Homo sapiens: one gene and its partner. The protein of the gene in region 1 interacts with the protein of each later gene in a pairwise test. Each region holds a gene or a part of one and is shown in the gene's direction. Other genes may lie near its edges.

Region 1 (3,649 bases):
CAGGGCACCCCCACCCAAAAGGAACCCAAACAAAGGGGAGGGGCCACTGCCCCTTGAGTGGATGGCTTGGTCCAGCTCTCCCCAGCTCTGTCTTGTGGGGAGAACTTTACCGAAGTGACCTCAACGCTGTATCGATGGGTCAATGTGAAGCCCAGATGGAGAGGCCCCAGGCCCTGGGGGCTGCCCCGGTCACAGCTGCAAGGGACAGGGGGCACGTTTGGGTTCCTGCCCCTCTCACTTCCCATCTCTTCCGTCCCCACTCCTGGGTTGTGCTGAAGTGAATCAGAACCCGAGATCCACGAGCAGCACTGGTTCTGGATCGGCCTGAACCGTCGGGATCCCAGAGGGGGTCAGAGTTGGCGCTGGAGCGACGGCGTAGGGGTGAGGGGGCCTGGGGTACTTGGGACTGCGAGGCCGGGAGCTTGGTGGGCGGGGCCTGTTTGGGGCGGGGCCTGGAGGTGGGCGGGTTTTCTTGAGGGCCGGGCCCCCAGTCGGAGCCGGCTTCAGGAAAGCAGGTCCGAGAGGGGTCACCCGGCCCCCGGTGAGAATTCGCAGCTCAGGCCAGGCCTCTTGTTCACCTGTTCCGGGCATGGGGGCGGCCTGCACCTTGCGCCTCACGTTCCTCTTCCCTCCACCCGCCTCCTCCAGTTCTCTTACCACAATTTCGACCGGAGCCGGCACGACGACGACGACATCCGAGGCTGTGCGGTGCTGGACCTGGCCTCCCTGCAGTGGGTGGCCATGCAGTGCGACACACAGCTGGACTGGATCTGCAAGATCCCCAGAGGTTGGCCGGAGTGGCGCTGGGGGACGCGGGATGGAGCGAAGGGTGGCGGGGCCAGGAATTCCAGGGAGGGTCTCCTTTCCTCACAACGTCTTTGTCCTTGTTCCCCTAGGTACGGACGTGCGGGAGCCCGACGACAGCCCTCAAGGTGAGCACCCCCCAGCCCATCCCGCTACCCATCGCGTGGGAGAGGGCGTCAACTCTGGGGTAAGTCCCGAGAGGCCTGAATGAAATGGAGGGGATGAGGAGTTCCGGTCGAGAGAAGGGGGACGGGGTTGGCTCGGACGGAGGCAGCCACAGCCCTGTTTGCTTCCGTGTGGGAGGCGAGGCAAGCCTGGGGCCTGGGGCCTGGCACGGTGCCTGCCTGGGTCCGGTGTGCCTGCAGGCTCGCCTGCTGCCGCCTGGCTCTGCCCCGGCCCTGCCGCGCCCGCCTCCGGGGCCTGGCGTGCAGCCTCTGCCTGGCCGCCGCTCCCACGCCCGCGCTGCTCCTGCAGGCCGACGGGAATGGCTGCGCTTCCAGGAGGCCGAGTACAAGTTCTTTGAGCACCACTCCACGTGGGCGCAGGCGCAGCGCATCTGCACGTGGTTCCAGGCCGAGCTGACCTCGGTGCACAGCCAGGCGGAGCTAGACTTCCTGAGCCACAACTTGCAGAAGGTGGGCATTGGATTGAGCAGGGGGCTGCAGGCTGGGGGAGGGCAGGCCCGGGATGAGGGCAGGGGGCTGCCTACCCACACCTGCCCGCCTGGCTTCTCCAGTTCTCCCGGGCCCAGGAGCAGCACTGGTGGATCGGCCTGCACACCTCTGAGAGCGATGGGCGCTTCAGGTAGGAACCCAGGCAGGCAGCAGATGTGGAAGGGGGCTGGCTGTCCACACACGGAGCACAGAGGCAGACTTGCATTTGAATCCAGCCCTGCCCCTTCCTTGCTGGCTGTGTGGCCTTGAGCAAGATACTTAACCTTTCTGGGCCTTGGTTTTCTCATCTGAAAATGGGAATATGAGGCCTGCCTGGTAAGATTTTTGTGAAGATTAGAAATAACATATGCGAAGTGCTTACGCAGCATCCAGCACATTAGTTACTAAATAATGGCAGCTCCTGTTACGTCTGGTGTCATTCATCATGACTAAGGCCCTCTCGGGGAAGTGGGCAGAACATATGATGATCCGGGGGCCTCTTTGTATTTGGTGCCTACTTACCATGTACTGGGGGGCTTGAGGCAGGAAGGACCAGGAGCACCTGGGACTCAGAATTTGAGCTTGTCTTTTTGCCCTTGGGCTTCCTGCCCTGGAGTCCTCAGGCTTCTTTTCTGGAGCAGCAAGTGTCCAGGGACAGCTGGGGCCTTATCTAGAGGCACCAGGTCCTTGGGTCTTTGACTGCCCTGAGCTCAGTAGCTCCACCCCTCAGCCTACAGCCACTAAACCCCAGAACCTGGGCCCTTCCCTGCCCCCATTCCTGCGGCCTTCATTGCTGCATCCGGTGGAGGCCCAGCTGGGGGCCGGTGCTGGAGTTACCTCTGCTCCATGCCATTGCAGATGGACAGATGGTTCCATTATAAACTTCATCTCCTGGGCACCAGGCAAACCTCGGCCTGTCGGCAAGGACAAGAAGTGCGTGTACATGACAGCCAGCCGAGGTGAGGGCAAGGTGGGGGCAGAGTGCGCAGTCAGCTGTGCAAAGGGTTAATGCTGGGCGAGCCTGGGCAGAAGTCATCAGTCTGTTCTCATTCTCTTTGTTCCCACAACCCAATAAAGGCTAGACTCAGCGAGGGGTGGACCTGTCTCCATGGTCCAGAAGACTTGAATTCGGAGCTGGACACAGGCCCTGAGCCTCTGCCCAGACTCCTCTCAGGGCATGAGGCTGAGTGTGCTGCCAGCCATGCCCTGCCCTGCTCTGCCCTGGGGGTGACTGCCCTCCCCTCCCCTTTCCGCAGAGGACTGGGGGGACCAGAGGTGCCTGACAGCCTTGCCCTACATCTGCAAGCGCAGCAACGTCACCAAAGAAACGCAGCCCCCAGACCTGCCAACTACAGCCCTGGGGGGCTGCCCCTCTGACTGGATCCAGTTCCTCAACAAGGTAGGAGGTGGCAATGGGGCACCCAAGGGAGTCAGGGGAGAGGACGTGAACAGGGAAAGGCTGAGCCTCAGGAGTCCTGGCCTTTTGGCAGCACCAAACTCATGGCCTCTTGCCTGTACCCACCAACTTCTCTTTCACCTGGCTCCAGTACCAGGGCCAGACTCCTTGGAAAATGACTCACTGTAGTAGCACCTTCCAATCCTCCGGGAAGCAAGGTTGTCCAAATAATTTGGTGAGTGTTCTAGATCAGTGATTGCCAAAGATTTTTTTTTTTTTTTTTTGAGAAGGAGTTTCACTCTTGTCACCCAGGCTGGAGTGCAGTGGCGCGATCTCGGCTCACTGCAACCTCTGCTTCCTGGGTTCAACCAATTCTCTTGCCTCAGCCTCCCGAGTAGCTGGGATTACAGGCACCTGCCACCACCCCTGGCTAATTTTTGTATTTTTAGTAGAGATGGGGTTTCACCATGTTGGCCAGGCTAGTCTCGAACCCCTGAACTCAGGTGATCACCTGCCTTGGCCTCCCAAAGTGCTGGGATTACAGATGTGAGCCACCGCGCCCGGCCTGATTGCCGGCCTGATTATCAAAGATTTTGATAATGAACTCCTATTAGTAAAACAAAATATTGAGCTTACATGACCAAACTATGTGTGTGTACATTTAACTTATATATGTATATGTGTGTGTAAATAAAACCTACTTCCATACTAATATGACTAATATTATATATAGTAAAATATGTATAAGAACAAAAGAGTATAAAACATTAGCTAAAGATTTTTAAATACTTTTAAG
Region 2 (3,649 bases), about 54 Mb from region 1:
CCTTCAGTAACGCTAAGAGGAGGAAACAAAATATTCTGAGGTCATTAGAAAGGGAGCATAAGTATTCCCCCTTTTTATTAGAAAGTTGATTGATTATGGCTGAACTAACCACCATTATCAACTGAGATGAGTAAGTTTTGAGGCTTGAAATAGAAATGGTTTGAAATGCAAATTTTTATGTGCAGCTACTGTTTTGACAACCATATCATTCCTCCTTCTTTTTTGTAGGCTTTAGAATCCAAATTAGCAGCTTGCAGGAATTTTGCAAAGGACCAAGCATCACGAAAATCCTATATTTCAGGGAATGTTAACTGTGGGGTGCTGAATGGCAATGGCACAAAGTTCTCTCGATCAGGGCATACATCTTTCTTCGACAAAGGGTAAGTCCTGAATGTTTTAAGTGATAATTTTTTGAGTAGTAAAGTGACAGGTTAGTAAGTGAGCATAATGAAGCCTTGAAAAGGTAAACTCAGCTTGACAAACCTTCCCGAAGCCTGTTATCATTCTAATCTTAGGTGACATGACGTCTGTTGTTGTCCTCTAGTCCCCATGGAGTCTGTTGCCCCAGGAACCCTGAATCTGAGGCTTCTGTCCTGGGAAGCAGACTCTTGAAAGGCAGCAGTGTGAGGCTCTGGTGAGTCAAAATGACTGCGATAAGGTCCCTGTTCTCCAGGTGCTTACAGGCTGGCAGACTTGGAAATATTTTTTTGGGGTAGAAGACAGCATCACAATTAAATATATGCAAACTCTACAACAGACATCCCCTGTGAGAATTTTAGAGAAATATAAAGCCCTGAAGTACTTAGGCACTGGATCAAATACAGTTTAGGAGATACAACTTTTGTATAAAGTTAAGGCTTTTTTGAAGATTGAAATAAAATTGTTTTAAGGTTGAAGCATCCTTAATGCAAAAAATTTCAGTTAGTATGGAAGTATATGAACTAAAAAGTCATGGTTTCCTGCCTTCACACTGTTTCTGCATTCCTTACAGTTATTCCAAGGCATGCCAAATCATATTTTTATGCATCTGCTCTAAGTTGTTTGTAACACAGTTACGGGATTATACTTTAAATATTGCTTTGCAGTGTGCCTATCATGACTTCTATTGCCATTATCTTTCCATGTCATGTATATTATTCTACCTCAATTTACTTATTTATTTTTAAATACTACATGGTAATACGTGGTTGTATGAGTATGCCTTAATATAGGTCACTATTAGGACCCGTGGCCTGGGATGCTCACGGTGTTGCCTAAGGTAGTTGTTATTGAAACAGCCAACAGGCACCCGTGATCCTTGGCTACTGTCTCTGCTTTGAGTCAAAGAGGTAATTCTTGCTTGTTTTTCTCTGAAAGCAGAGCAGGTACAACTCTAGAAACGCTCACAATCTCTGAAAGCAGCTGGGATTTTCTGCCGTCCTCAATAATTATGGCACATGTGTAAAGGAGCAGATTCGACACACGGTGCACTCTGAATAGGCTCTTATCCTTGCAGTGGAGTGTTTTGGTTGATCTCTGTCCCTGATTTTACCCTGGAGAATATACATTTCATTAAGGATTTTGTATTAAAAGCACATCCTAAAACATCACTATACAAATTAGAACTTTATTCTTTCTTAAAAAATTTGTTTAAATAATTTTTGTTTTCTTTTGAAGAGATGGGGGTCTCACTCTGTTGCCTAGGCTGATCTCAAACTCCTGGGCTCAAGTGATCCTCCTGCCTCAGCCTCCCAAAGTGCTGGGCTTGCCGCCGCGCCCAGCTGAAATCAGAACTTTATTCTAACCATTGGGTTTCCTCGGGTGGAGTAAACATAAAATTGATTTTCCTCAGGCTTAGGAGTTTCAGGCAGACTTGCGGCAGCCCTTGTTTTTATAGTGGAATGATAAATGGAATGACTGGATGGTTTTACATGAGCGTAGCCATTTCCCCTGAATGATATGGAGAACTTTTAGGGTAGTCTTCATAAATGTTGGAAGCAGTGCCTAATTATTTTTCCCTACAACTTATAATGATCCTCTACTAGAGTAGTTATTAGTTTCTCCTTGGAATCGTATTTCTTGATGGGCCGCAGGTGCCTTTCATGAGAGCAGGTGTGAATCATAAATGGATAGGTCGGACAGGTGCCTGTGCGTGTGGAAGCCCTGAAGAACAGTCACGAGGAGGGAAGGATAACACTGTCTGTTCAGGGTCGCTACTCCTGCCCGCCACTTGCCTCCCAAGACAGAGCACCAGGGCAGGGATTGCCAAGAGGTGAGCCTGTTCTGAGGGAGATGTGGGGACCTTAGGGTGAGCTGAAGCCAGGAACAGGCCTTGGGCACACTGACTGCACCTCTGCCCCTTGAGAGCATCCGAGATGTAAGTGTAGGCTTTACTTCCTGAGCTGAACCCGGAAATGTGCTGTGCTTCCCAATCGGAACAGTTGCAGATACTGAGTTTTGGTTTTAAATGGTAGACATTTTACATTGTGCCTTTTCTATTAAGAAATATGCTTTTGTGGGCTGGCTGTTGTGTGAGTGTTTAGCTTATATGATAAGTGGATTGTGTATGCGCACTGAAATATTAACCTACTGTTGCTGGAGTTGTCTTTCTAGTTGCTGTATTCCTGAGGATAACTCTTTTGTGGGTTTTGCTGTGTTTTCACTTTCTTGCCGCTTTGCTTCGATTCCGGCTTTTGGCCTGTCTGGCTTTTTACCTCTGGCTTTTCTTCTGCCAACCTGTTGACCAGATAAAAACCAAGATGTTGTGTAGCAGCCGCAAAAGGAAGGGCAGGATATTCCACTTCCCAGGTCCATTATACACTCTGGCAGGTTAAAAACACAAAAGCCTGTCTGTGTAGAAGTGGAGAAGTATGGCTTGTAGTTTCAGCATGAGAAAAGTGCCCCATTTGAAAAAGCCCTCCACTGCAGAACCTGCCTGCCCTCCCTCTCACTCCTGAGGAGTCTGTAGCACCGTGGTGATGGCTCACTAGTGCTGCCAGAAACCTGCGGCAGGATTGTTTGGGGGAGAGACATCATCAAAGTAGGTTTGTGTGTGTGTGCATGTGTGCGGGTGTACATGTGTTCACCTTCCCACCCGCTGAAACTTCAGATGCAGTGAAGCCTTCTCACATAAAACAATATACCTTAACTGGGCGTATTGCTCTGTGGGATTCAAAAGTATTTTGTAAATTCTGGTCACTTGAGGGCTTCTTGGAATCAGGTTTTTGTCTAGTCTGTGAGCACTTCTGCCAGTTCCTGAAACATGGGCTGCCGTGCCTGCTTCCCAGGTGCCGAGCTGTTTCCTTCAACCATGGTCACCCTTTGTCTCACCATCTGAAAGGACACACATTTCATGTGGAGTGTGGTCGCTTGGAGTCTCTCAAAAACACTCTTTTTTTTCCCATAACTTTATGTAGTTTCTTAGGTAACATGTGCTCTATTTTTGTAAGCCACTCTGAGTTCTTTTGGGCTGTGTGTAGGTGGGCATGGACTAATTTTAGGGCGTGATGTGGAAATAGTATTCGTATTACTGTTTAATATGTTCTCCTTTCTTTTATTAGGCAAGAAAAAGTCATATTTCCCACGTTGTTCATGGGTAACTGAATTTGTTTGCTGTGCTCTTTTTCATTCTTTCTTAATCCTGGTGTGTGGTGGAAGACACATTAACAAT

The links.
Region 2: the proteins of MRC2 (region 1) and NDEL1 interact in a two-hybrid assay, tested with the Homo sapiens proteins (2 studies listed by BioGRID and IntAct).

The regions. Positions count from the first base shown.
Region 1 is NC_000017.11:62,679,522-62,683,170, forward strand, and holds part of MRC2 (C-type mannose receptor 2 precursor), read left to right. Parts: intron 1-278; coding exon 279-381; intron 382-648; coding exon 649-787; intron 788-896; coding exon 897-932; intron 933-1,278; coding exon 1,279-1,439; intron 1,440-1,540; coding exon 1,541-1,608; intron 1,609-2,315; coding exon 2,316-2,416; intron 2,417-2,713; coding exon 2,714-2,856; intron 2,857-3,649. UniProt on the Homo sapiens protein: May play a role as endocytotic lectin receptor displaying calcium-dependent lectin activity. Internalizes glycosylated ligands from the extracellular space for release in an endosomal compartment via clathrin-mediated endocytosis.
Region 2 is NC_000017.11:8,459,781-8,463,429, forward strand, and holds part of NDEL1 (nuclear distribution protein nudE-like 1), read left to right. Parts: intron 1-228; coding exon 229-380; intron 381-3,539; coding exon of another isoform or gene 3,540-3,574; intron 3,575-3,649. UniProt on the Homo sapiens protein: Required for organization of the cellular microtubule array and microtubule anchoring at the centrosome. May regulate microtubule organization at least in part by targeting the microtubule severing protein KATNA1 to the centrosome.